Homo sapiens: one gene and its partners. The protein of the gene in region 6 purifies or fractionates together with the protein of the main gene of each other region. This does not show direct contact. Each region holds a gene or a part of one and is shown on either strand. Other genes may lie near its edges. The genes, in order: ARPC4, PDIA6, NUCB2, EIF3CL, AP2A2, LETM2 and CYP51A1.

Evidence for each region.
Region 1: the proteins of LETM2 (region 6) and ARPC4 purify together in Homo sapiens (affinity purification with mass spectrometry; one large-scale study listed by BioGRID and IntAct). This does not show direct contact.
Region 2: the proteins of LETM2 (region 6) and PDIA6 purify together in Homo sapiens (affinity purification with mass spectrometry; one large-scale study listed by BioGRID and IntAct). This does not show direct contact.
Region 3: the proteins of LETM2 (region 6) and NUCB2 purify together in Homo sapiens (affinity purification with mass spectrometry; one large-scale study listed by BioGRID and IntAct). This does not show direct contact.
Region 4: the proteins of LETM2 (region 6) and EIF3CL purify together in Homo sapiens (affinity purification with mass spectrometry; one large-scale study listed by BioGRID and IntAct). This does not show direct contact.
Region 5: the proteins of LETM2 (region 6) and AP2A2 purify together in Homo sapiens (affinity purification with mass spectrometry; one large-scale study listed by BioGRID and IntAct). This does not show direct contact.
Region 7: the proteins of LETM2 (region 6) and CYP51A1 purify together in Homo sapiens (affinity purification with mass spectrometry; one large-scale study listed by BioGRID and IntAct). This does not show direct contact.

The regions. Positions count from the first base shown.
Region 1 is NC_000003.12:9,799,403-9,803,347, forward strand, and holds part of ARPC4 (actin-related protein 2/3 complex subunit 4), read left to right. Parts: intron 1-782; coding exon 783-894; intron 895-2,258; coding exon 2,259-2,354; intron 2,355-3,945. Other genes in the region: ARPC4-TTLL3 fusion protein, read left to right, coding at 783-894, 2,259-2,354. UniProt on the Homo sapiens protein: Actin-binding component of the Arp2/3 complex, a multiprotein complex that mediates actin polymerization upon stimulation by nucleation-promoting factor (NPF).
Region 2 is NC_000002.12:10,788,424-10,792,368, reverse strand, and holds part of PDIA6 (protein disulfide-isomerase A6 isoform d precursor), read left to right. Parts: intron 1-443; coding exon 444-574; intron 575-1,535; coding exon 1,536-1,650; intron 1,651-2,479; coding exon 2,480-2,620; intron 2,621-3,387; coding exon 3,388-3,472; intron 3,473-3,599; coding exon 3,600-3,672; intron 3,673-3,945. UniProt on the Homo sapiens protein: May function as a chaperone that inhibits aggregation of misfolded proteins. Negatively regulates the unfolded protein response (UPR) through binding to UPR sensors such as ERN1, which in turn inactivates ERN1 signaling.
Region 3 is NC_000011.10:17,282,882-17,286,826, forward strand, and holds part of NUCB2 (nucleobindin-2 isoform 1 preproprotein), read left to right. Parts: 5' UTR 1-62; intron 63-3,752; exon of another isoform or gene 3,753-3,836; intron 3,837-3,945. UniProt on the Homo sapiens protein: Calcium-binding protein which may have a role in calcium homeostasis. Acts as a non-receptor guanine nucleotide exchange factor which binds to and activates guanine nucleotide-binding protein (G-protein) alpha subunit GNAI3.
Region 4 is NC_000016.10:28,400,935-28,405,608, forward strand, and holds the start of EIF3CL (eukaryotic translation initiation factor 3 subunit C-like protein), read right to left. Parts: upstream 2,908-4,674; 5' UTR 2,853-2,907; exon of another isoform or gene 2,804-2,852; intron 2,715-2,803; 5' UTR 2,685-2,714; coding exon 2,584-2,684; intron 671-2,583; coding exon 605-670; intron 463-604; coding exon 273-462; intron 51-272; coding exon 1-50. UniProt on the Homo sapiens protein: Component of the eukaryotic translation initiation factor 3 (eIF-3) complex, which is required for several steps in the initiation of protein synthesis.
Region 5 is NC_000011.10:988,055-991,999, forward strand, and holds part of AP2A2 (AP-2 complex subunit alpha-2), read left to right. Parts: intron 1-497; coding exon 498-635; intron 636-3,945. UniProt on the Homo sapiens protein: Component of the adaptor protein complex 2 (AP-2). Adaptor protein complexes function in protein transport via transport vesicles in different membrane traffic pathways.
Region 6 is NC_000008.11:38,396,112-38,400,056, forward strand, and holds part of LETM2 (LETM1 domain-containing protein LETM2, mitochondrial), read left to right. Parts: intron 1-804; exon of another isoform or gene 805-1,018; coding exon of another isoform or gene 1,019-1,021; intron 1,022-3,945.
Region 7 is NC_000007.14:92,117,290-92,121,234, reverse strand, and holds part of CYP51A1 (lanosterol 14-alpha demethylase), read left to right. Parts: intron 1-2,619; coding exon 2,620-2,715; intron 2,716-3,945. UniProt on the Homo sapiens protein: Sterol 14alpha-demethylase that plays a critical role in the cholesterol biosynthesis pathway, being cholesterol the major sterol component in mammalian membranes as well as a precursor for bile acid and steroid hormone synthesis.

The DNA of each region.
Region 1 (3,945 bases), on a different chromosome or scaffold from region 6:
GGATCTCCTTTGAGCATCTTGTCAGCACTCGGAAACTTTCAGGTTTTTTTTTTTTTTTGAGATGGAGTTTGATTCTGTCACCCAGGCTGGAGTACAGTGGTATGATCTTGGCTCACTGCAACTGCCACCTCCTGAGTTCGAGCAATTCTCGTGCTTCAGCCTCCTGAGTATCTGGGATTATAGGAGTGCGCCACCATGCCCAGCTAATTTTTATATTTTTAGTACAAATGGGATATCACCATGTTGGCCAGGCTGGTCTCGAACTCCTGACCTCAGGTGATCCACCAGCCTCAGCCTCTCAAAGTGCTGGGATTACAGGCATGAGCCACTGTGCCCAGCCAGTTTCAGATTTTGGATTTCAGATTTGCAGATTGGGGATGTTCAACTTGTAGTTACTAAAATAGCTATCTTTTGTAAAGCTCCTACTATGTGCCAGGCACGCTATTAGACATTTGACCCTTTTTGATCTCTCTCAGTCCTCGCCAGTGAATTAGGAATCAGAGTCATTTTACAGATGAGAAAATTGAGATTCCAACAGGGTAACTTGCCCAAGGAAAGTAACAGAGGAGGCTGGATTTCAAAACCTTTTCGCCCTGACTTCAGAGCCTGTGCTCTTTCTGCTGAAGAACACACTCACTGGCCCCCATCTTGGAGCACTCCTGCTTGTGAGTCTTCTATTCCTTGGACTCTATGGTCTCATAGTGATTCCAGGACCTGCGTGGGGTCACTCTGACTATTCTATCCCTCTGTAGTACAAGTACTCTGTCACATTATGTTTTCAGGAGTAGCAAAGAGCTCCTGTTACAACCTGTGACCATCAGCAGGAATGAGAAGGAAAAGGTTCTGATTGAGGGCTCCATCAACTCTGTCCGGGTCAGCATTGCTGTGAAACAGGTAAGTTCACCATGGAGGAGGCCCAACGTAAGGCCTCTTTCAGTCCTTTCAGCCTCTTTCAGTCCGGGGTCCCCATCTGAGAGATCAGTGTGCCAGATTCCAGATTCAGAGTGCAGGAAACCTAGCCTCTGCTTCCTTTTTTTTTGACACGGATTCTCACTCTTGTCGCCCAGGCTGGAGTGCAGCAGCATGATCTCAGCTCACTGCAACCTCTGCCTCCCGGGTTCAAGCAGTTCTTCTGTCTCAGTCTCCCAAGTAGCTGGGATTACAGGCATCCGCCACCACGCCCAGTTAATTTTTGTATTTTTAGTAGAGACAGAGTTTCACCATGTTTGCCAGGATGGTCTCCATCTCCTGACCGCAGGTGATGGGCCCGCCTCAACCTCCCAAAGTACTGGGATTACAGTCATGAGCCACCATGCCTGGCCAGTAGAGGGCAACTCTAAACTTTCAACAGGATGAAAACGAAGCACTGTTATTAAATGCAGACTACACACTGTTTTCTACAGAAACTTATAAACCTGGGGCCTGCTTTCCTTGCTAAAATGGGAGGTTAACAAGTGTTGAGAGGTGTTAAGGGCATGCTAGCAACCAGCAGCAATAATCTTCCTTTAGAAATGTTGAGAGTTCAGGGCCAGGCACAGTGGCTCATGCCTGTAATCCCAGCACTTTGGGAGACCAAGGCGGGTGGATCACTTGATGTCAGGAGTTCAAGACCAGCCTGGCCAACATGGTAAAACCCTGTCTCTACTAAAAATACAGAAATTAGCCAGGCGTGGTGGCACGCGCCTGTAATCCCAGCTACTTGGGAGGCTGAGGCAGGAGAATCGCTTGAACCCGGGAGGCAGAGCTTACAGTGAGTCAAAATCGTACCACTGCACTCCAGCCTGGGTGACAGAGCGAGATTCCATCTCAGAAAAAAAAAAAAAAAAAAAAAAAAAGAAATGTTGAGCATTCAGAAGGGAGAAACTTCAGGGATTGTTGGATGTTCAGTGTTATTAAAGCAGAGACCACCTAAGGTTATCTCTGATAGCCCAGGTGATGCTGCAAAACACCCTGGGAAATGTGACACTAGTGAAATGAGAATGGAAAGGGCAGCTTGGAGTACAGCTGTAGACTCTGAAAGAAGCAATAGAAGCCTGTCAGAATTACCTCTCTGGAATGGGTCGTCATTAAGAGATGCCCCAAGGTAGACCCTTGTTTCAGTTGACAGCCAGGTCCCCCACTTCAGTGATCCTTCCGAGTACCAAACCTCACTGTCTCCTGGGAGCCTTGAAAAAACTGGAGTCAGAAGACCAGGCTACAAGGTGTTTTTGGCCTTGGGTGTCAGCTTTAGAGAAACATTTCTCTCTTGCACTCCCCAGGCTGATGAGATCGAGAAGATTTTGTGCCACAAGTTCATGCGCTTCATGATGATGCGAGCAGAGAACTTCTTTATCCTTCGAAGGAAGCCTGTGGAGGTGAGACCCTGTGACCCATGAGTTTGCGATACCCAGGACCCTGTTACAGAATGGCCTGGGATTGTTTCTAGAACCAGCTACTCCAGCTGTTTGGCACCCACTGCCTGAATTGAGAGTTGGCCTTCATCTTGGAGTGGGAGCAAAGAGGATTAGAAGCTTAGGAAAAGTTGGGTCTACCTCAGCCATAGAAAAGGCAAAAAAGAGCCGGGCGTGGTGGCTCATGCCTCTAATCCCAACACTTTGGGAGGCCGAGGTGGGTGGATCATGAGGTCAGGAGTTCAAGACCAGCCTGGCCAACATGGTGAAACCCCATCTCTATTAAAAATACAAAAATTAGCTGGGCATGGTGGTGGGCGCCTGTAATCCTAGCTACTCAGGAGGCTGAGGCAGAGAACTGGTTGAACCTGGGAGGCGGAGGTTGTAGTGAGCCAAGATCGTGCCACTGTACTGCAGCCTGGGCGACAGAGCAAGACTCCGTCTCAAAAAAAAAAAAAAAAAAAAAAAAGGCAAAAAAGATAAGACACATTGCTTATTCCCGGAGCCTATAGTCTAGCATCAGAAAGAGCACAGTGAATTAGAAATCCTTTCTAAGATCTGCCAAATGAATCATAGTCTCTCTCTCTTTTTTTTTTTCTTTGAGACGGAGTCTCGCTCTGTCGCCCAGGCTGGAGTGCAGTGGCACAATCTTGGCTCACTGCAAGCTCCGCCTCCCGGGTTCACGCCATTCTCCTGCCTCAGCCTCCTGAGTAGCTGGGACTACAGGCGCCCACCACCACACCTGGCTAATTTTTTGTATTTTTAGTAGAGACGGGGTTTCACCATGTTAGCCAGGATGGTCTCGATCTCCTGACCTCGTGATCTGCCTGCCTCGGCCTCCCAAAGTGCTGGGATTACAGGCTTGAGCCACCGCGCCTGGCCTTTTTTTTTCTTTTTTTGAGATGGAGTTTTGCTTTTGTTGCCCAGGCTGGAGTGCAGTGGCGCAGTCTCACTGACTGCAACCTTCCACCTCCCAGGTCAAGTGATTCTCCTGCCTCAGCCTCCCGAGTAGCTGGGATTATAGGCACGCATGTGCTACCATGCCCAGCTAATTTTGTATTTTTAGTAGTTTCATTGTGTTGGCTAGGCGGTCTCAAACTCCTGACCTCAGGTGATCCGCCTGCCTCGGCCTCCCAAAGTGAATCATAGTCTGCAATCTGGGCTCACTGCAAGCTCCGCCTCCTGGGTTCACGCCATTCTTCTGCCTCAGCCTCCCGAGTAGCTGGGACTACAGGTGCCCGCCACCATTCCCGGCTAATTTTTTGTATTTTTAGTAGAGACGGGGTTTCACTGTGTTAGCCAGGATGGTCTTGATCTCCTGACCTTGTGATCCGCCCACCTCGGCCTCCCAAAGTGTTGGGATTACAGGCGTGAGCCACCGCGCCCGGCCCACTGAATCAGTCTCTTAAAGCCACAGTTAACATTGGGTCAGTTGTTGCCTGAATTTGTACTTGAATCTTCTCCACAGACTCCTTGCCAGGTAAACTTAAAATATCCCCAGTGACTAAGCAACTACCACACAGCAGCATGTGCCATCATCAGACACGTCAGGCGT
Region 2 (3,945 bases), on a different chromosome or scaffold from region 6:
GAACATTCTTCGAAAAAAGAAAAGGATTAAGTGTTATTTTTAGCTCTGTTGACTGGTAGGGACTTTGTCTATGAAAGATGTAACATAACATCCTAGGATGAAGCAGCAGCTGTACTTGAGTCTGAATTAGAACAGTGTTGTTCAGGTGGTTTTTTGAGCCATGTTGAGGTTTCTCTCTAAAAATAGCTGGTGACAGCATTCAGGTACAGGTTATGTGTTGTACTGAATGTATTGATAATTACTTGAAAGTAAAAGACTATTTGCCAAGCAAAAATTACAGTGCTGAGGAATGTACCCAATTTGAATACAACCGTTTTCACTATTTTATTCACTAAAGAAAAACCCTAAAACTTTGTTAAGATGTAGCAGTAGTGTTATTATTTAAAACAGGAAAAGTGTTCTTCTTGGCCCAATTGTTTGATGTTTAATGTCATAAATGACAGGGCAGAAGTGATAGTTCAAGTAAGAAGGATGTGATTGAGCTGACAGACGACAGCTTTGATAAGAATGTTCTGGACAGTGAAGATGTTTGGATGGTTGAGTTCTATGCTCCTTGGTGTGGACACTGCAAAAAGTAAGTGCCTTCTACTAAGTAGTCTGTTCATTCACAGTGTTTTCAGTACATTCATTAGCTTATTTTGAAAGAGCTGAAGTAGATAATAGATCACCACTAAGATCTCTTCCAGCAAAACTCTGACTCTAAGTGAATATTAAACATTGACATTAGCGCCAAGAGCTTCCACTCTCCTATTGCCAAAGATTAACAAGGGACTGGCTCATGTCTGGATTTAGGGGCAGTGGTGGAATGGGAAGCTCATGTGAAGGGTAGCATTGTATCTTTAGTAAAGCCACACACAAAATGTTTTCTAGGTGTGACATAATTGGGGATTGGGCAGAAATGCACAGATCAGTTAAAAAGTATAGGCTAGGCATGGTGGCTCACACCTGTAATCCTAGCTCTTTGGGAGGCCGAGGCAGGCGGATCACTTGAGGTCAGGACTTTGAGACCAGCCTGGGCAACATAGCAAAACCCCATGTCTACTAAAAATACAAAAAAATTGGCTGGGTGTGGTGGCGTGTGCCTGTAGTCCCAGCTACTTGGGAGGTTGAGGTGCAAGAATCTCTTGATTGTGGGAGGCAGAGGCTACAGTGAGCCAAGCTCACACCACTGCGCTCCATCCTGGATAATAGAAGGAGACTCTGTCTTAAAAAAAAAAAGAAAAGAAAAGAAAGGTGTTTGGGCTGCAAGTTAAAATGCAAGTATTTGGCCTGGTGAGGTGGATCACTTGAGGCCAGGAGTTTGAGACCAGCCTGGGCAACATGGGGAAACCCTATCTCTACTAAAAATGTAGAAATTAACAGTGGGTGGTGGCACACACCTGTAGTCCCAGCTATGTTGGAGGCTGAAATGAGATCACCTGAGCCCAGGAGATTGAGGCTGCAGGGAGCCATGATTGCACCACTGCACTCCAGCCTGGGCAACAGAGAGAGACTGTGTCTCAAAGAAACAAAACAAAACGAATATTTTTCTATAGCCTAGAGCCAGAGTGGGCTGCCGCAGCTTCAGAAGTAAAAGAGCAGACGAAAGGAAAAGTGAAACTGGCAGCTGTGGATGCTACAGTCAATCAGGTTCTGGCCTCCCGATACGGGGTGAGTATACTTATAAGGCTCATTTCATTGTGAAATACATGGTGTTTCGTTACTTCTTCCAATACTCCAGGCCTCCCTATGAGGTAGTAAAGGAGATGTTTAAACCATTTTGTAAGTGAAGAGATAAAGTCACTTTATTGTCATAACTAACAAGTCTGAAACTCAGGACTGTCAACTTTTCCCCCTAATGTCACACTGCTTCTGGTATATACTTAATGTGAGGTTTCAGCTTGCCCAGACTTATTCAAGTTGCTCATATGGCTGTTGTGAGTTGGTCCATTTGTTCTAGGGCAGGTACTTTGTGTTAATTATATACCAGGGCTTGAATATGATTGGCTAAACTTCACAGACTGTTAAAACTCCCTGATTGATAATTGACCTCTGTGAGTCATTCCTTTGAAATCTGTGCAGTCTGGAGAACAGTTTTGTTACATTAAATTACCTATAAGGCCAGAGTGGTGGCTCACACCTGTAATCCCAACACTTTGGGAGGCCAAGGATCACTTGAGGCCAGGATTTCAAAACCAGCCTGGCCAACATGGTGAAACCCCGTCTCTATTAAAAATACAAATATTAGCCGGGTGTGGTGGTGTGTGCCTGCAGTCCCAGCTACTCAGGAGGCTGAAGTAGGAGAATTGCTTGAACCCAGGAGGCAGAGGTTGCAGTGAGCTGAGATTGCACCTGTGCTCTCCAGCCTGGGCAACAGAGTGAGACTGCTTCAAAAAAAAAAAAAAAAAATTACCTATAAGGTGGTTTTAGAAACTGTAAAGATTGTGTTATTTTGCATTAAGTGTTAATTGGATTTTATCCTCTGACCTTTTTTTAATAGATTAGAGGATTTCCTACAATCAAGATATTTCAGAAAGGCGAGTCTCCTGTGGATTATGACGGTGGGCGGACAAGATCCGACATCGTGTCCCGGGCCCTTGATTTGTTTTCTGATAACGCCCCACCTCCTGAGCTGCTTGAGGTAAACCACTTCAACTGCTTGTAGTCCAGAAAGCTTTTTTAGCTGATGGTGAGGAATGTTAAAGCAGTGTGACACACTGTTCATTTTATGCCCTTAAAGATACTCTCTTTAAAGTGGTTTCTATACTTTGAAATGGAAAAAAAGTCTGATAAATTGCTTTTCATAACTTTTAGCATTAGAATAATTACACTGAACAGAAATACGAGCTTCTTAAAGATAGAGTGTATTCAATCACTCTTGCTTATCATTCTCAAAGTAATAGAACATTTATCAAGTACTAATCATGTAACAGGCACCGTTCTGGTGTCTTTGTATAGTTTTGTTTTGTTTTGTTTTGTTTTCATTTAATTCTCACATGAACACTGAGAGGTAGATACTGTTTTTAATCTCCATTTTATATATGGGGAAATTGAGGCACAGAGCCTCAAGTGTGTATAAACATATAAGACATATAATACATGTAAGTATAATCTATTTAAACAAGTAAGTGGCAGAGCCAGGCTGTGTCCAGGCATTGCGATTTCAGAGATGTTTGTATGTGTGCTAATCACCCCACCTCCACCACCACAGCTTCCACAGGCTTAAGAATCAGTAGCAGAAAAATCTCCTCTTAGAGAACATGCCTCCAGGTGTTTCCATACGAGGAAGTAGTCGTGGGAGAAATGTTTTCAATGAAAGTGACGGTGCGAAGGTCTTGTTTGCCAGCTTACCTTTAGGTGTTGTATCATGCAGCCTCCTGATTGTCCCTTGTCTTTTGGGTCCCACAGATTATCAACGAGGACATTGCCAAGAGGACGTGTGAGGAGCACCAGCTCTGTGTTGTGGCTGTGCTGCCCCATATCCTTGATACTGGTAAGACAGACGGAAATGATTTCCCTTAGCTGTTCTATGCTAGATGCTCTGAGAATACTTTCTAAATGGATTAATTTTATGGACTCCTTTATCTTTACCTTTAAAAAACTTTGTCTATTTAAATCAGGAGCTGCAGGCAGAAATTCTTATCTGGAAGTTCTTCTGAAGTTGGCAGACAAATACAAAAAGAAAATGTGGGGGTAAGTTACTGAGCTTACTGTCTGAGTGTCATCTGAACAGCTGATTATAGGCTTTCTTGAGAGTGGTTCCCCCGTGTTTTTGTAAGCTGTGTTCTATGTTTGCTCTGCTATATGTTTTTTTTTTTTTTCCCTCCTGCCTCAGCCTCCCAAGTAGCTGGGATTATAGGCGCCCGCCACCACACCCAGCTAATTTTTGTATTTTTAGTAGGGTCAGGGTTTCACCATGTTGTCTAGGCTGGTCTCAAAACTCCTGACCTCAAGTGATCCACCTGC
Region 3 (3,945 bases), on a different chromosome or scaffold from region 6:
CTCTCTGGATCTCAGTTGTCTCATCTGTAAAAAGGAGATAAAAATTATTTACCTGCCTGAACGTAAGTACTCAATAATTGCATTTGGTTGCAAAGAAACATGACTATCACTACCACCACCACCAAAATACAAAAAAGGAAAAACCAAAAACGAACTCACAGATGGCTTAAACATGCAATATTTATTTTTTATATAAAATAATAATTGAAATAGCACTCTAGGATGGGTATAGTGGCTTTATAAAGTCATCAGAGACTTAAGCTTCTTTCAGTTCTTTTATCAGTGATCCCTAAGACATTCTTGTAGTACTGGTTCTTGTATGTCCAAGATAGCTGCCAGAGCTCTAACCATCACTGTCATGTTCCAGGCAGCAAAGCATAGGCGAAGAAAGATGCATCCTCTTCCTTTAAGGAGAATTCCTGAACCAAGGCTGAGGCTATAAGAAAGCAGGGAAATGTAGCTGACTGCATGTCTGCCCTCTATAAAATTGGGCTTTTGTTACTGAGAAGGAAGGAAAGATTTGGATATTGGCAAGCAAATAGAAGTGTCTGCCATGATATGAATCTTTTTATCTTTCAGCTCTGAAATCTGTAAGCTGTGATAACCACTCATAGAAGCTTCTATAATTTGCCATGGCAGAGATATAAGTCTGACTATTAACTACAGAAGGAAATAATCTTCATGTAATAAATTGTGTTTCTGTTTTTACTTTTAGCCCTTAATTCATTATAGAAGCTTTTCTGTCTTATTTGTGGATTTGTTCTGGTTATTTTTTAAAATTACCCATAAATGCTCAATAGATGTTTGTTGTACATTTTATGGTTGTGTTAAAAAGAGCTAACATTTATTGAGCTACTTGCTATAATCAAGGCACTAAAATGACAGAGATAAGTTATCCCAAGGGTATCACATAACTAATCATCAGGAAGTAAATTTATATTGAAAGTAAATATAATTCATCTCAAGATACATTTCACTATGGTCACATGAGGAACACTTGCCTTCCTTGCTAGCTAAAAGTAGTTTGTTCTTTTTCTTTCCTTTCTTCTTTTTTTAACCACTTAACTGTTAGTTGTCTTGAAATTTTCTCTTACTACTAGTTCTTGCTTAACTTATTTAGCCACACCAATATTTTATTTCCTTCCAGACTTTTATTTTTTTTGTTGAGACGGAGTCTCACTCTTTCACCCACGCTGGAGTGCAATGGCTTAGTGCAACCTCTGCCTCCTATGTTCAAGCGATTCTCCTGCCTCAGCCTCCTCAGTAGCTGGGACTACAGGCATCCACCACCACACCCAACTAATTTTTGTATTTTTAGTAGAGATGGGGTCTCACCATGTTGGCCAGGGTGGTCTTGAACTCCTGACCTCAGGTGATCTGCCTGCCTCAGCCCCCTACAGTGATGGGATTACAGGAGTGAGCCACCGTGCCCAGCCCCTTCCAGACTTTTCTTTGTGAATATTATATAAATATACCCTATACTTGTCCTGCAAAATGGTTCAATTGTCATTATTTCTATTTCAAAAGTAAACTGAAATAAATAGCTTTGAGAAAAAGAAATTCAGGGAATGGAAATTGGAGTGAGAAAGATTCTAAAGATTCAGTCAATCTTTTAGAGTTTTTAGAAGGGAGACAGTAAGTTAAGATTTTATTTCTACACAGTATATTTGTATTTTTGAAAGTTTTTACATTTTTTGGTTGTATTAGATAGGCACAAAGTACAGTAGTTCTTTTGCTGCTAGTATTGCAGTTTCCTTTTTTCTGATCTAGACTTGTTGACCTCAAACAAAATAATCAGGAGACTTGTGACCATAAAAACAACCCAGTTTTTAAGAGACATTTAACGTTATAAATCACCTGACTGAGAATGTCTGTTTGGTGAATACCATTTTCATGACTTTTAATTTTTTTTAATTAACAGAAAAGTATCATGCTATGCATTGTTTTGTAAGCAGCATTTTAAAAATTGCAATTGTATTTAATAGCTTACCTTCCTCACTAGATTGAAGCCCTGTGAGGGTAAGGACTATGTCGATCTCGCTTACCTTTGTCTTCTAGCATAGTATCTGGTACCATAGTCATTACTTAATACATAAATATTAGTTTAGTTTTGTTTTTAGAAACAAAGTCTCAATACATACATACATACATACATACATACTTATAATAGGTTAAAGGAAACATGCTTCAATTCAGCCATTAATTGAAAAGGAAGAGGGGCAAAAGAAGAGGGTTGAGGAAGATGGAAAAAGATACATAAAAGAGGCTGGGCGCGGTGGCTCATGCCTGTAATCCCAGCACTTTGGGAGGCCAAGGCGGGCAGATCACAAGGTCAGGAGATCAAGACCATCCTGGCTAACATGGTGAAACCCCGTCTCTACTAAAAACATACAAAAAAATTAGCCGGGCGTGGCTGGGTGAGGTGGCTCACGCCTATAATCCCAGCACTTTGGGAGGCCGAGGCGGGCGGATCACGAGGTCAAGAGATCGAGACCAGCCTGGACAACATGGTGAAACCCTGTCTTTACTAAAAAAAACACAAAAAATTAGCCAGGCATGGTGGCATGCGCCTGTAGTCCCAGCTACTTAGGAGGCTGAGGCAGGAGAATTGCTTAAACCCAGGAGGCGGAGGTTGCAGTGAGCTGAGATTGCACTACTGCACTCCAGCCTGTGCAACAGAGCGAGACACTGTCTCAAAAAAAAAAAAAAAAAATTAGCTGGGCGTGGTGGCGGGCACCTGTAGTCCCAGCTACTCAGGAGGCTGAGGCAGGAGAATGGTGTGAACCCGGGAGGCGGAGTTTGCAGTGAGCCAAGATCGCGCCACTGCACTCCAGCCTGGGTGACAGAGTGAGACTCCGTCTCAAAAAAAAAAAAAAAAAAAAAAAGATATATAAAGGAGGAACAGAGACTACTTCCAAGGAAAGAGAAAATTTTCAGTTTTCTGTACTTTTCACCCTGGTTATCTATGGTAATTTTTTTTAACCACTTCCAGGATATCTTGCCCAACAATCAAAACAGGAAACCATCACACATACATGCGCGCACGTGTGCGTACACACACACACACACACACACACACACACACAAAGCAAACTTAATCTGTATAACTATGGGTATAAATCAGTAGCTAAGAAATCTGCCTCTGTGTATGAATGGAAATTTTATTTTTTGAGACATGTTCTCACTCTGTCACCCTGGCTAGAGTGCTGTGGCGTGACCATGGCTCACTGCAGCCTCAACCTGCTGGGCTCAGGTGATCTTCCCACCTCATCCCCCACCAAGTAGCTGGGACTACAGGCATGTGCCACCATGCCCAACTAATTTTTGTATTTTTTGTAGAGACAGAGGTTTCACCATATTGCTCAGGCTGGTCTTGAACTCCTGGGCTCAAGGAATCCACCCTCCTTGTCCTCACAAAGTGCTGGGATTATAGGCAGGAACCTCCGTGCCCAGCAGAATAGAAATTTTGACTTGGTTGAGACAGGGGAAGAGAGATTAGCTTTCTTTTAGGACTTTAAAATTTAAGGAAATTATATCTACTGAATACTAAGAGAAGCTTAAGAACTCTGCTTACTTTGTAATTTTACCAGAGGCTCTGATGCCTTTGGGGTCAGTGCCTCCCATTCTGTCTTGAGATGACTACATAATTTAGAATTTCACACCATCCTACTTTAGAGAGTAAATTATCAGCCTGTCCTGGTTTGGATGAGTCTACTGTTTCAGCCTGGTTCAGCCCAGTGTCTCCTCTTTAGGTCCGTATCTCTCTTATGAAAGAAGAGGGTGATAAAGGAAAGGAGAAGGCCATTCTTACTGACCTGATAGTGGAAGAAAAGTAGGTTAGTTCTCCTTCTTCCTATTGCCTGTCCTTATCACTCATCTCTTTCTTCTATATGGATATTTGTATATTTTCTCATTCATGAAAATCTGTAAACCTAGTAAATTTGC
Region 4 (4,674 bases), on a different chromosome or scaffold from region 6:
TTGGCATTGTTCTTGTTCATCTTCTTCTTCCCTTCCTTATCTTCCCAAAGCTAAAGGGAAGAAGAGGAAAGAAACAGAGAACAGTGATTTGAAACTAAGTAACATTTCCTAAACTCCAGGCTTCTTCTCCACTTTTGAGTCTTGCTATTGGAACACCACTGGTACTACTTATTAACTACATCTGTTAGCTTATTTTTAAAAGATCCTATACATCCCACCACTAAAAGTACAAAACCATGAATAAGTGGTGGTAATAAATATAGGCATCACACCTCATTAAGATAGTCCTCTAGGTCAGCCAGGATGCGGATATAGAACCGGGGGACACCTTCTTTGTCCACAATGCTTTTGGCCTTCCCATATGCTTTTCCCAGGAGCTCAAACTCTTCCAGGCACTTGGTGACATCACGAATCTTCATGGCATTACGGATGGTCCGGATAAGGTTGGTCAGCTCCTCAAACCTGGGTTGGGAGCCCGATACCACATTGAACGTGCCCACCGAGGGAAAACTCACCACTGCTCCCAGAGACTCCTATCACCCAGCCTCCCCACAGCTTCATTGCTCCCAGAGACTCCCATCACCCAGCCTCGCCATGGCTTTACCTCTTGTCCTTGGCACTGCGGACAACTCTCTTGGTATCTTCTTCATCCTCGCTCAGCAACAATGGCCTGTTTGGAAGGAACAGAGGCCATTAACCTCCTTTCCCAGTCTTTCCAAGAGATCCGTATTTCCCTACTCAGGACAGGTAGAACTAAGTAATCCAGGCCATCCACACCACACCCATCCTCTTTTTGACTCCTCCTCAGGGCCACTTCATATACAACTCAATCTTTTAAGTGTACACTAAGTAAGGCCTTTTGCTCAGTGTTGTAGCAACACAAAGATGACATTCACTATCCTCTCAAAAACAAATGAAAGTGCTAATTTACTGTGTAACTAATGACATAGAGACACAAGTCACCACAGAAGTAATGAATAAAAAAAGAGGTAGAGAAAAATGATACTTGAGCTATAATGAACAGAAAAGGCTTTAGGGAGGTGGTACCTAAACTAGATCTTAGCAACATTTCCCAAAGTATGAGAGGCCAACAGCAAGGAGAAAGTCTCAATGGTATTAACACCTCCACTGCTAGTATTTTTCTACGATAATAAGACCAGACCACAGGCTCACAGTCAGCAACAGTATCTCTACTCTTTTTGTTTGTTAAGAGATAAGGTCTCACTATGTTGCCCAGGCAGCCTCCAACTCCTGAGTTTCAAGGGATCCTCCCACCTCAGCCTCCAGAGTAGTTGGGACTACAGGCATGCACCATCTTGCCTGCCTCTTTTCCCTTTTTATTATTTTTTGGATTATTTTAGCGGTGTTTTTTGAGGTGGAGTTTTGCTTTTATCGCCCAGGCTGCAGTGCAATGGCGCAATCTCGGCTCACTACAACCTCCGCCTCCAAGGTTCAAGAGATTCTCCTGCCTCAGCCTCCTAAGTTGCTGGGGTTACAGGCATGTGCCACCACAACCGGCTAATTTTTGTATTTTTAGTAGAGACGGGGTTTCACCTTATTGGCCATGCTGGTCTCAAACTCCTGACCTCAAGTAATCAGCCTCCCAAAGTGCTGGGATTACCGGCTTGAGCCACCTGCCCAGCCTGGATTATTTGGTATTTTATGGCAAATGACACTGGTTTCCACCTGTGGAAGTGATACGAAACCATATGCATATTGGCATATACATGTGCAATACATACTTTTAAAACAGTAGCACAAACGTGGCAGATGTTTAAGAAACACCATTCCAGTGGGGCACAGTGGCTCATTCCTGTAACCCCAACACTTTAGAATGCTGGGCGGGAGGTTCACTTGAGCCCAGGAGTTCAGAACCAGTCTAAGCAACACAGTGAGACACCTTCTCTACAAAAAATTAAAAACAATTAGCCTGCTGCGATGGCGTGCACCTGTAGTCCCATCTACTTGAGAGGCTGAGGTGGGAGGATCGCTTGAGATCTGAAGGTCGAGGCAGCAGTGAGCTATGACCCCTCAAAAAAAGAAAAAAAAAAGGAAAAAGAAAAACCATTCTATTGTTCCAAAGGGTAAAAAAAAAAAAATTAATGTACAGAAATGGCGGATGGGTATTTACGTAGAGGTGAACAGGCATATAAAATGTTTAAGCACCTGCGTACACAGCAGGTGACCAGACTTCAGAGTCGCATCAGGGGGCTCCCAGATACCAATCAAGCATTTTGCATTTCCTTCTGTGAGCAGTGAGAAGTCACTAAGGACTTCTCGGCGGTAAAATGAGAGGAGACAGGTAGAGGCTGTAGACTTAAGGCCAGTTAAGAAGCTGATGCAACAGATCTGGCTTGGGAAACCTCTGTGATTCTATCCCTTGTGCCTGGTGGGTGGCTACCGGCTATCACAGCCCTCTAAGGCTGTCTCTCTCCAACACCGCTCCGATCCTGCAAACTCTGGTCATTGTCCAAACCCACTCTCCCCGCCCTCACCTCCATCCCCTCCCATGTGCACTGCGTTCCACAGCCTGCCTAACCCCGCACTCCCAGAATGGTCACAGCCACAGCCCCCGCAACTCACTGTTTGCCATAGTTGCCTCCGACAGGTTTGGTGACGAGCTCCTCCCCGGACAAGGACGACTCGGACTCGCTGTCCGAACCGGTGGTGAAAAACCGCGACATGGCGACGGCGCGGAGGTGCTACGGCCGGACCTGCGGGGGAGCCAAGGCGTCACCGGCCACGCGAAGAGGCCCGAGCCAACACCTCCCGACGCCCAACCCCTCACCGGCCCCACCCGGACCTCGACCTGGGTCTCCCACCACGAAGCACGAGGCCCAAAAAATACCAACCAGCTGAGCCCGCGAGTCACACCGCAGGGCCCTGACAGCGGAAACGCCGAGAGAGAAGGCGGGTCCTCGCGTCACTTCCGGGAAGCGCCGACTAACTACACTGGGAGACTACAACTCCCAGTGGCCTTCGCGCCATAAGGGGGCGGGGACAAGCCTGAGGGAACCGGGCGCTGAGACCTTGGCTGCAGGCGTCGCGAATCCTACCGCGCGTTGGTGTCGGGATTTAAAACACGAAGATCGGCGGGGCGCAGTGGCTCACGCGTGTAATTACAGCATTAATAGGCATTAATAGTATAGAAGTAGATAATCCTGCCGGGTGCGGTGGCTCACTCACGCCTGTAATCCTAGCACTTTGGGAGACCGAGGCAGGCGGATTACCCGAGGTCGGGAGTTCGAGACCAGCCTGACCAATATGGAGAAACCCCATCTCTACTAAAAATACAAAATTAGCCAGGCGTGGTGGTGCATGCCTGTAAGCCAAGCTACTCGGGAGGCTGAGGCAGGAGAATCGCTTGAACCCGGGAGGCGGAGGTTGTGGTGAGCCGAGATCGAGCCACTGGACTCCAGCCTGGACAACAAAAGCGAAACTCCATCTCAAAAAAAAAAAAGTAGACAATGCTAGCCAGGCACAGTGGCTCACTCCTGTAATTCCAACACTCTGGGAGGCTGAGGTGGGTGGATCACCTGAGGTCAGGAGTTCGAGACCAGCCTGGCCAATATGGCAAAACCCCGTGTCTACTAAAAAATACGAAAATTAGCCTGGCACAGTGTCACCTGCCTGTAATCCCAGCTACGTGGGAGGCTGAGGCTGGAGAATCACTTGAACCCAGGAGGAAGAGATTGCAGTGAGCAGAGATCACACCACTGCATTCCAGCCTGGGTGACAGAGCAAGACTCTGTCTCAAAAAAAAAAAAAAAAAAAAAAAAAGTAGACGATGCTAGATCTTGCAGGTCTTTATAGGCCTGTGGTTTGGAGCCGCCATCGGCAGAGGTTTTAGTGCAAGGGACTGTGTTACATTTTTCAAGGTGGTTTTGATATGGGAGCGGGACAGGGAAGTGCTGGGAAGGGAAGAGCATGCTCTTCCAAAGTGCTGGGATTATAGGCATGAGCTACCACACCTGGCCGTTTTGTTTTTTATTGTGAAATATTTCAACAGACAAGAATAAAGACTATTCCAATGGACATCTATGTACTCACAACCCACCCAGCACCGTCAAAACTTAATATGAGGCTGGGCATGGTGGTTCATGCCTGTAATCCCAACACTTTGGGAGGCAGAGGTGGGCAGATCACTTGAGGTCAGGAATTCGAGACCAGCCTGGCCAACATGGTGAAACCCCATCTCTACTAAAAATACAAAAATTCGCCTGGCATAGTGGCAGATGCCTGTAATTCCAGCTACTCAGGAGGCTGAGGCAGGAGAATTGCTTGAACCCTGAAGGTGGAGGTTGCAGTGAGCCAAGATCGTGCCACTGCACTCCAGCCTGAGCGACAGAGCAAGACTCTGTCTCCAAAAAAAAAAAGTTAAAAAAAAAAACCAAGGGGTTCATTGTACGTCTGTAAATCCATAAATATCTTTTTTTTTTTTTTTTTTGAGATGGAGTTTTGCTCTTGTTGCCCAGGCTGGAGTGCAATGGTATGATCTTGGCTCACTTCAACCTCCGCCTCCCAGTTTCAAGCAATTCTCCTGCCTCAGCCTCCCAAGTAGCTGGGATTTACAGACGTGCACCACCACATCCAGCTAATTTTTGTATTTGTAATAGAGAAGGGGTTTCACCATGTTGTCCAAGCTGGTCTCGAACTCCTGACCTCAGGTGATCC
Region 5 (3,945 bases), on a different chromosome or scaffold from region 6:
GGTGCCCACTCTCCTGCCTTTGTTGGGAGCAGAGCTCGGGCTTTCTCGTGCTGCAGAGCCTCCTGGGGGCCCATCAGCACGGGCTCTGGGGTGGGGCGTGAGGACCTGCCTTGGGGCAGCTCCGTGTCCGAGGCAGTGGGGTCTTTGGCTGCATGGAAGGGAGTCCTTGATGGCCTGCACCAGGCAGTGCGCTCAGTCCTAGCGAAGCTGGCCCTTGTGGAGGGCAAGGGAGGCATGGACGAGCGGGCAGAATCCAGGCAGTGCGCTGGGTCCTAGCGAAGCTGGCCTGTGCGGGAGGGCCGGGCCAGCAGGCGGAACTCTATTCCGGGCTGTCCAGACACACGTGGCCCGAGTGCAGGTCGGCTCCCTGGACCTGGATGTGCATGTGAGGGAAACTCAGAGTGGGTGTTGAGATGCGGGTGCCGAGCCTGTCCCCAGCCTGTCCCCAAGCTTGTGCCTTGCTCCTGCGACCTCTTACTCTGTGCCTTGTTCCCCAGACTGAGCGGGACGTGAGCGTGCGGCAGCGGGCCGTGGACCTCCTCTACGCCATGTGCGACCGCAGCAACGCCCCACAGATCGTGGCCGAGATGCTGAGCTATCTGGAGACAGCTGACTACTCCATCCGAGAAGAGATTGTGAGTTCTGGTGGCCTCTGAGTCCTCTCCTGCCACAGGCGTGAATCTCAGCGGCAGGATTTCCTTCGTGCTCTGCGATTCCGTCCAGCAGGACTTGATTGAGAACCCATGAGATGCTGAATACAAGGCTCCTCTGCCTCTGTGTTTTCATCCACATTTTCAAGCTGGGTGTGGTGGCACCTGTGGTCCCCGCTACTCCTGAGGTGGAGGCGGGAGGATCACCTGAGGCCAGGAGGTTGAGGCTGCAGTGAGTCGAGATCATGTCACTGCACTCTAGCCTGGGCAACACAGCGAGACCCTGTCTTAAAAAAAAATCAGCATTTTTGGTAGAGTCGTTTGGTCTTGAAAATAACTATTGGCCGGGTGTGGTGGCTCACGCCTGTACACCTTGGGAGGCCAAGGCGGGCGGATCACCTGAGGTCAGGAGTTCAAGACCAGCCTGACAAACATGGGGAAACCCTGACCCCGTCTCTACTGAAAATACAAAATTAGCCGGGCGTAGTGGCGCATGCCTGTAATGCCAGCTACTCCGGAGGCTGAGGCAGGAGAATCGCTTGAACCCGGGAGGCGGAGGCGGAGGTTGTGGTGAGCCGAGATTGCGCCATTGCACTCCAGCCTGAGCAACAAGAGCGAAACTCTGTCTCAAAAAAAAAAAAACTAAAATGCCCGTCCTGCGCGGCTTCTGTGGCCTGCCTGTCCTTGCAGTGGTGGCACTGTAGCCCCAGGTCTGAGTGAGGCTCCAGCCGTCTGCGCTGGGGCTGCACAAATCCAGACTCCTGTGGGCAAAATTCTTTTAATTGTGTTGCATTTTGAGCCCTTGAATTAATCCTTTGTGGCTTGGCTTTTTTGGGTGTCCCTCTTGATCTCTGGGAAGGACGGGATCTAGGCCATAGCTTAATGTCCCGTGTTGTTTTTATTCACAAAGTAGGTGTGCACACTTGCCAGATAGCTGAAGCTCATCAAACCTGTACGTGTGAAAGACTGAGCATGAACCAAAACCTGAGGGAAGAAACCCTTGTGGAGGCCACATGGTCAGCAGAGAAGAGGGCCTGAGGCCTCCACCACACTCACAGGCCTCTCAGGCTCACCGTGTCTGTGGATGGTGGGGTTTAAGGGGGAGGCCCGGTGTCCTCGCGTGGGGTTCGCCACTGTGACCAGCCAGGACCACAGCCTCTTGTTGAGGCTGAGACAGCGCCTCCGTTGTATAGAAAGCGCTTTGTTATTTGTTTTTTTTGGGCGAAGTGCGGCTCAAGGCCTCCTTGGGAGCTTTGCCGAGAGCCAGTGTTGGAGCTAGTGGCAGGTGACAGGGTTGCTCTGGGCAGGTGTTGTGTGGTCATGCCCAGGTGAGAGACTCGGGTTTTCAGGGGTCTTTTAGTGAACGGAGGAGCCCAGGTGCTGGGGCTTCAATGCTGAGGGGTGAAATTACCATGGACTGAGCTTCAGTGAGGCACTGCAGACCTGCAGAGAGCAGGGGCCAGGAGGCGGCTCTCACGCTGGACTGTCCACCCTCCAGGACAGTGGGCCTGGGAAGTTGAGGGGGACAGGGACGGGGTGGGCTGACTCCCGGCAGGAGGCCCCAAGGGCAGGCACCGTGGTGTAGGGCAGGGCTGTCTGTAGAGGGGCCAGGCAGGTGCTCGTTGACTGTAGCCAGTGGTCCCTCTCTGGCCTGGCTGGGGCAGTGTGGCCTGGTGTCAGCACTTGTGGTGGGGTGGGGCTGGCTCTGGGGACGGCCGTCACGGGAGCCTCGTTCCTGATTGTTGTTCTGGGTGTTTTGAACAGAGACAGAAGCAGTGTGCTTCTGAGTGCAGTTGTGCAGATTTTGAGGTCCTGGGCATTCGTCAGCCCGGTGTCTGCTCTCGCCCCTCTGCGTGATGAGCGGCAATCCTCAGCCAGCTCCTGCTGTGAGGAGTAAGACAGGTGCTGTGTCTTGGCCTGCATGATGCTCCCCCCAGCCCGTCCTTTCAGCCGGACATGATGCTCCCCTCACCCCATCCTTTCAGCTGGGCATGGTGCTCCCCCACCCCATCCTTTCAGCTGGGCATGGTGCTCCCCCCACCCCATCCTTTCAGCCGGGCAGGGTGCTCCCCCCACCCCGTCCTTTCATCTGGGCATGGTGCTCCCCTCACCCCATCCTTTCAGCTGGGCATGGTGCTCCCCCCACCCCATCCTTTCAGCTGGGCATGGTGCTCCCCCCACCCCATCCTTTCAGCTGGGCATGGTGCTCCCCCCACCCCATCCTTTCAGTCGGGTATGGTGCTCCCCCCACCCCATCCTTTCAGTCGGGTATGGTGCTCCCCTCCGTCCTTTTAGCCGGGCATGGTGCTCCCCTCCATCCTTTCAGCCGGGCACGATGCTCCCCCCACCCCGTCCTTTCAGCCGGGTATGGTGCTCCCCTCCGTCCTTTCAGCCGGGTATGGTGCTCCCCTCTGTCCTTTCAGCCGGGTATGGTGCTCCCCTCCATCCTTTCAGCCGGGCATGGTGTTTCCCTCTGTCCTTTCAGTCGAGCATGGCAGGGCGTGTTCTCTGGCTGTGCTAGGTGCTAAGTGTCCAAACTGGACATGGCCCACTCCCTGCCTACTCGGCACCTTGCCATCCATGGAGGGGGACGGATTGAGAGCAGGACCGTGGGTTGCTGTGCTGTGGGTGGGATGGCTGGAGGAAGTGCCTCATGTTCTGGGGGCCTCAGGAGGCATTACACTCCTGGGGGGCTGTGTGGACTTCTGCAGAAGGTGATAGTGGCCTGGTCTGGAGAGGATGATGGTGCAGAGGCTACTGGGAGGGCAGAGCATCCGTTCGTGGAGGGGTGGGAGGTACCTTAGCACAGGCTGGGGAGCAGGGCACGCGAGGCAGGGGTGGAAGCAGACATGGGGACCCTGCCAGTGAGGCCTGAGGGCCCCTGGTGCACAGCCGTGAGCTGCGGGTAGGGCTCAGAGGCAGTACATTTTGGAATGATGCCCTGGAAGTGTCACGGAGTCAGGTTGGGGTTTGGGGGTCCAGGCTCCAGGCAGGGACTTGGGGTGGGGGGGCACAGTCACCAGCACCTGAGAGGCCAGTGGCAGGGTGTGGAGAGGGGGCGGCAGGGTGTGGGGAGGGGCGGCAGGGTATTAGGGGTGCCCTCGGGAGGTGCGCGGTCTTGATGCCTGCTGGCGTTGGTGTTGGCAGCTGGCGCTGTTCGAAGGGGGCTTGGTTCCAGGCGAGGTGACTTTGGGGAGATGAGTTTGGTGTTGTACAGCCTGGCAGAGCTCCATGTGGGTGGCTGCCACGTGGGTGTGGGCTGGGCAGGTGCCTCCGGGGGGCACCCGTGAGAGTG
Region 6 (3,945 bases):
TACAGTTTTGTGTCTTAGATTTATGTCTGTGATCCATTTTATTTTTTTATTTATTTATTTTTTTTTTTTTGAGATGGAGCCTCGCTCTGTCGCCCAGGCTGGAGTGCAATGGTGCGATCTCGGCTCCCTGCAACCTCCACCTCCCAGGTTCAAGCGAGTCTCCTGCTTCAGCCTCCCAAGTAGCTGGGATTACAGACATGTGCCACTACACCCAGCTAATTTTTGTATTTTTAGTAGAGCCAGGATTTTGCCATGTTGGCCAGGCTGGTCTCGAACTCCTGACCTCAGGTGATCTGCCCACCTCAGTCTCCCAAAGTGCTGGGATAACAGACGTGAGCCACTGCGCCAGGCCGAGTTAATTTTTATGAAAACTGTAATGTCAGTATATAGATTCATTTCTCTCTTTTTTGTATGTGGATATCTAGCTTTTCCAGGACCATTTGTTGAAAAGATTTTCTCTTCTCCACTAAATTCTAACTTGATTTTAACTGTCAAAAGAACAAAGAGAACAGGCTGGATGCAGTGGCTCATCTCTGTAATCCCAGCATTTTGGGAGGCTGAGGTGGGAGGATTGTTTAAGCCCACGAGTTCAAGACCAGCCAGAGCAATATAGTGAGACCCCTGTCTCTAAAAAACAAAAATTTTAAACAAATTAGCCAAGTGTGGTAGCATGCACCTGAATTCCCAGCTACTTGGGAGGCTGAAGCGGGAGGATTGCTTGAGCCCAGGAGGTTGAGGCTGCAGTGAACTGAGATCAGGCCACTGCACTGCACTCCAGCCTGGGCAAGAGTGAGATCCTGTTTAAAAAAAAAAAGAATAAAGAAAACAGAAATCCACTGTTACCGCGGTGACTAGTGGAACAGTAGGTATGATTTAGTCAGCCCAACAGACAGTTCAGCAGCCCCTGAGAAGAGGGAGCCTTCACTGAGTGTGGCAGTCACTGTGCCGGTGAGAAAACAGAGGCAGCTCCTTCCTTCTCCCCGTTCTGTGCCACTCTACTAGACAGCGTTGACAGCATATGGTAAGAAAGTGTGAACAAAACATTATGAGAAGACAAAAAGTGCAACTTTTTTTTTTTTTTTTGAGACGGAGTCTCGCACCATCACCCGGGCTGGAGTGCAGTGGCACAATCTTGGCTCACTGCAACCTCCGCCTCCCGGATGCAAGCAATTCTCCGGCCTCAGCCTCCTGAGTCGCTGAGATTACAGGCGCCTGCCACCACACCCAGCTAATTTTAAGGGCAACTTTTAAATCAGTAAGATTGGAAACTTTTTCACAGAAAAGGTAACTTTGGAACTGAGACTTAAAGAGTAAGTGGCATTTTACCATGGTCTGGGAAAGGTATTCTGGATAAAAGGAATAGCATTTAACATGGCTCAGTGGCATAAGAGAGTATGATGTAATCAGAGACCACTGGTTGGTTATTTGTGGTTGAAGTAGGCAGTTCCAGGGCATCAATGACAGGAAACAGACAAAGTGATGTGTTGGGGTCAGGTTGGAAGGCATCCACCCACTTAAGGAATTTAGGCTTTCCCTTTCACCATGGTGAATAATGGAAAGGGAACGTTTGAAGCAGGGTAGCTGGGTGGATGACATGATTAGATCTATGTTTTGGAGGAATAATTTTGCTGGCAGGAGGGGCAGCAGAGGGTAGAGCCAAGGAAGGGAAACCAGCTGGAATGCTAGCCCAAGAGAGAGATGACAGAGAATACATTATGAAATTGACAATAAGAATAAAGACTTGAAGGCCGGGCGTGGTGGCTCATGCCTGTAATCCCAGCACTTTGGGAGGCCGAGGTGGGTGGGTCACTTGAGGTCAGGAGCTCAGTACGAGCCTGGCCAACATGGTGAAACCCCATCTCTACTAAAAATACAAAAATTAGCCTGGCATGGTGGCACGTGCCTGTAGTCCCAGCTACTTCAGAGGCTGAGGCAGAAGAATCACTTAAACCTGGGACGCAGAGGTTACCAAGAGCCAAGATCATGCTACTGTATTCCAGCCTGGGCGACAGAGTGAGATTTTTGTCTTAAAAAAAAAAAAAAAGAGACTTGAAGACAAATTCGGGATACCTTCACAGGATAAATCAAATTACAATATTTGACTGCCTGGCAATGTTTTAATTTGCTTACATTTAAAATAATCAGCATCTAGAATTAATGCCATAACATTCCAAGGAAAGTATTAGTGAATTCAGGAAGATGGGGGGAATAGAGGAAGTGATTTATTTAAATGTTACCTCTTTCCTGAACACCACTCATTCCCTGAAACATACAAATATGTCTACATCATGGCCACAGTCTCAGAAAATTCTTGTTTGCTTTGTTCCATGGAGAGAGGAGCTTTCTGTTTACATCAGATCACAGCACCATGTATTTCTCTTTCATAGCACTTACCCATTATGCTTCTATATTAATGTGAGGAATTGTGGGATTATCATTAGTCACTAAAGTTTGTCTCTCCCACTACACTAAAAGTTCCATGAGGGCAGGAATTCTTACCTGTTGTTGCTCATTTTATCCCCAGTACCTAATATGGTAGATGTGCAATAAATAAATGGATAGATGGATGGAAGGATATGGATGAATGAAATGGATGACTAAGTGGGTTCTTTTTTTTTTTTTTTTTTTTGAGACAGAGTCTCGTGCTGTTGCCCAGGCTGGAGTGCAGTAGCGTTATCTCGGCTAACTGCATCCTCCCCCCAGGTTCAAGCAATTCTCCTGCCTCAGCCTGCTGAGTAGCTGGAATTACAGGCATGTGCCACCACGCCCGGCTAATTTTTGTATTTTTAGTAGAGACAGGGTTTCACCGTGACAGGCCAGGCTGGTCCCAAACTCCTGATCTCAGGTGATCCAGCTGCCTCGGCCTCCCAAAGTGCTGGGATTACAGGTGTGAGCCACCTCATCCGGCCACTAAGTGGGTTCTGATCATACTATTGTGTGATTTTTTTTTTTTTGGCTGTATCTTTTAAGATCTATCTAAATATCAGTGATTCTTATGATTGGCTGATCATTAGAATCTCCTAGGCAACTTAAAAATATACGTAGATTCCTGTTCTTCTTTACCACCCTGAGTCCTGACTGTGGTTATTTTGAAAATGCTACCATACTACATTTCTGATGATTAACAAGGATTAAGAAACACCAGCCAACACAGTGTCCATTTACTTTTCTTCTGTGTAGTGCTGTGTTCATGTCTGTTAGAGCACTTAACTCACTGTATTGTAATTACTTATGTCTGTTTTCTAGTTAAACTGTAAGCCACATTAGGTAGAGTCCATTTCCTAGTTTTCTTTGTTTGTAAAGAAAAACCCAGGGCCACTCAAGGAGTTAGCTCAACTGGCAGACTGGATAGTTTGCACCAGGTTGAGATCGTATCTCATTCTTGTCTGGGCGCTGTGGCTCAAGCCTGTAATCCCAGCATTTTGGGAGGCCGAGACAGGCAGATCACTTGAGGTCAGGAGTTCAAGACCAGCCTGGCCAACATGGTGAAAACCCCTACTCTACTAAAAATAAAAAATCAGCGGGGTGTGGTGGCGTGTACCTGTAATCCCAGCTATTCGAGAGGCTGAGGCAGGAGAATCACTTGAACCCGGGAGAGAGAGGTTGCAGTGAGTCAAGATGGTACCTCTGCACTCCAGCCTGGGTGACAGAGCGAAACTCCATCTCAAAAAAAAAAAAAAAAAAATTAGCCAGGTGTGGTGGCACACACCTGTAATCCCAGCTATTCAGGAGGCTGAGGCAGGAGAATCACTTGAGTCTGGGAGGTGGAGGTTGCGGTGAGCCGAGATCGTGCCACTGCACCCCAGCCTGGGCAACAGAGTGGGACTTGATCTCAAAAAGAGAGAGAGAGAGAGAGAGAGAGAGAGATAGTATCTCGTGCTAAATAATTATAAAGCCTCCCATTGGGGGAACATTTTGGATCTATCAAATGCTTATGATTATTGT
Region 7 (3,945 bases), on a different chromosome or scaffold from region 6:
CCTTGGCTTACTGCAACCTCGGCTTCCCAGGTTCAAGCTATTCTCCTTCCTCAGCCTCCCAAGTAGCTGGGTACACACCACCACGCCTGGCTAATTTTTGTATTTTTGGTAGAGACAAGGTTGTACCATATTGGCCAGGCTGGTCTTGAACTCCTGACCTCAAGTCATCTGCCCGCCTTGGCCTCCCAAAGTGCTGGGATTACAGGTGTGAGCCACCATGCCCAGTTGGTATTTTGTTTTGATTTTGCATTTCCCTGGTGACTAGTGATGTTGAGTGTCTTATGATGTGTTCTTTGGCTTTGGTATACTTCTTTGGAGAAATGTCTGCTCACATCCTGTTCCCATATTTAAAATGAGTTGTCTTTTTATTATTGAGTTGTAAGAGTTCATCTATTTTTTTTTAATGTGCTTTTGGTGTCAGAGAAACTAATGCCTAATCAAAGTGTATGAAGATTTATTTCTGTGTATTCTTCTTAGTGTTTTGTAGTTTCATATCTTACATTTAGGTCTTTGATCCATTATGAATTAATTTATGTATATGATGTGAGGTCATCATTCTTTTGCATGTGTTTATCCAGTTGTCCCACACTGTTTGTTGAAAAGACTATTTTTTCCACGTTGAATTGTCTTTGTAAAAAAATCTATTATAGCCAGGCGCAGTGGCACGTGCCTGTATTCTCAGCTACTGAGAAGCTGAGATGGGAAGGTCGCTTGAGCTCAGGACTTGGGGTCCAGCCTGGGCAACATAGCGAAACCCTGTCTCTGAAAAAATAAATACATTTTAAAAAGCCTCTTGACCATAAATTTAAGGCTTTATTTCTGGACTCAGTTCTATTCCATTGATATGTTTAGTCTGATGCCATTACGTAGTTTTGTAATAAGTTTTGAATTCGGGAGTGTGAGTCCTCTGACTTTGTCCTTTTCAAGGCTGTTTATCTACTCCTAGTCCCTTTAGTTTCCATATGAATTTTGGGGTCAGTGTGTCAGTTTCTGCAAAGAAGCTAGCTGAGATTTTTGACAATGATTGCATTGTATCGCCATATTAATTTGGGAGCACAATTTTAGTCTTTAAATCTGTGAACATGAGATGTCTTTCTCTTATTTTAGTTCTTTAATTTCTTTCAACAATGTTTTATAGTTTTTGGTGCACAATGTTTAAACTTCTCTTGTTAAATGTATTCTTAAGTATTTTATTATTGTTATTTTTTTGATGTTATTCTTTCTTCTGCCAGTCCAAATCTGCTGTTGATCCCCTCGGGTGAATTTTTCATTTCAGTTCTCATACTTCTCAGTTCTTGAATTTCTATTTGGTTCTCTAAAAAAATAATATATTGATATTCTCCATTTTACTAGAGATATCTAGGCATATTTTGCTATAGTTCTTTGAACCTGTTTATAATAGCTGATTTAAATTCATTATCTAGTAAGTCCAATGTCTGGGCTTCTTCATGGATAGTTTCTATTAAACTGCTTGCTTTTTCTATGTACTGGCCATACTTTCCTGTTTTGGTGTGTTTTTTGTAATTTTTTTGTTGAAAACTGTACATTTAAAATAATGTGGCAACTGTGGAAATCAGATGCCCTCCTCCCTGGGTTTATTGTTGCTGGCTCTTTGTTGTTGTTGTTGTTGCTGCTGCTGTTTGTTTACTGCGTTTCCTGGATTAATTATGTCATTCCTTGTTCAGTGAGGTCACTGAAATCTCTGCTTGCTTACTTTAGTGGGCATCTAATATTTGGACAGAGATTTACTGAAGTGCTTTGAACAGCCAGTCTCCTAGCTTTTGCTGAAAGGCTCTGTATGTGTGTGTTAGGGGATGTTATTAACACTCCAACAGGCAGTTACAAGTCTGCCTTCACTACCTGTGTGTACAGGTCAGCCAGAGGTAAAAGATTACAGCCTCTTAGATCTTACCTGGGCATATGCATGGTCTTATACATATGTGTGGCCTTCAAGATTCTCTTATGTTGGAACTTTTCAAAGTCTCCTGTGGACATCTTACTCCCCAGTTTTCCCTTTTAAACTTCTTGTTCTGTCTCTTAGCACCAACTGATATCACCATCTCAGGCGCCTTCAGTGTTAAACAATTTTTGCTAAATATTTTTGGAAAATTTGCTCTGGCTCCTCTAATAGTTGTTAGGCTTCTGGCTTTCACAGCTGCTATAGTTGTCATGCTGTTGGTTTCCGGGGCTACCATGGATTTGGGGAGAGGAGGATGAAAGAAATACAACTTACACTACCACAAAGCTTACTCTTCTTACCAAGATTCAGATTTCTTTTTCTTGAATTAACTCTCCTTAGATTGTTGCAAGCCTTTGGTTAATCTTCCAGAATTTTGAAAAAGTTGACATTAAGATTGTTGCTACTGTTTTCATTTTTTGGAGGAGTGAATTTTTGTAGGTTCTTACTTCATTCTTCAGGGCAATCGCTTCTGTTACCTTGCCCTCCTTTTTCACCATGGACAGTGGTAGAGCATGATAACCCCAGCCACCCTGAACCAGTTACCTCTGTACTTTTAGCTGGAATGCAAGCTGTCTTGTACTAACTAAGAAGTTAAACTAATTTTTTGTACTGTTGAAGTATGTTATTTATAACAATCAGGAAATGCTTTCTCATTTTAGCTCAAGGATCTAAATTTACTTGATCGCTGTATAAAAGAAACATTAAGACTTAGACCTCCTATAATGATCATGATGAGAATGGCCAGAACTCCTCAGGTGAGTATCTTGGCTACATCTTCCCCTCTATACCCCCAGTTTTTATCAAAAAGAAGAAATAGGTGGGTGTGGTGGTTCACACCTGTAATCTCAACACTTTGGGAGGCTGAGGTGGGAGGATCACTTGAGGCCAGAATTTGAGACCAGCCTGGGCAACATAGTGAGACTGACCTCATCTCTACAAAATTTTTTCTAAAAATTAGCTGGCCATAATGGCACATGCCTGTGGTCCCAGCTGCTTGGGAGGCTGATGTGGGTAGATTGCTTGAGCCTGGGAGGTTGAAACTGCAGTAATCCATGATCACGCCACTGCATTGCTGCCTGGGCAACAGAGCAAGACCCTGTCTCAAAAAAAATAAAAATAAAAAAGAAAGAAAAAGAAAAGAGGAAGTAGAGTAGCATAAAAGAGATTTTTTTAAATTAAAAAAGTAGAATAATCACTTCTACCTAATCTTCAGTTTTATATACTCTAAAAACATATTTTTACCTAATTGTAGATAGTATACGTGCTAATCTGTTTTTTTTTTTTTTGAGACGGCATTTCACTCTTGTTGCCCAGGCTGGAGTGCAGTGGTGCGATCTCAGCTCACTGCAACCTCCGCCTCCCGGGTTCAAGCAATTCTTCTGCCTCAGCCTCCCAAGTAGCTGGGATTACAGGGGCATGCCACCATGCCTGGCTAATTTTTTGTATTTTAGTAGAGATGGGGTTTATCCATGTTGGTCAGGCTGATCTCGAACTCCCGACCTCAGGTGATCCACCCGCCTTGGCCTCCCAAAGTGCTGGGATTACAGGTGTAATCCCGCGCCCGGCCTACATGCTAATCTTTAATGCTAATCATGTTCTGCATTTTTCTTTAACAATTGGGGTTTTAAAAATCAAAGTACATATTTTTCTTGGTTTTAAAAATAACATTTTGTTGTAAAAAATTGTTAATATGAAGTGTACAAATTGATAGTGAAAGCCTCTCTGAAATTCCAACCCTACCTCCAAGGCATTATGGGTTTGATTTGTGTACTGTGTACTTCCAACCCAACGCTGGCTCACTGGAAATCATCTTGAGTTAAAATAATTTTTAGTTTGCCTATTATCTAGCCAGTTTTTAAATATATGTACAGATGGTTCTTGATTTATGTGATTCAACTTATAATTTTTTGACTTTATGATGGATTTATCAGGATGTAAACCTATCATAAGTCAAGGAGCATCTGAGTATCCCATGTATATTCATG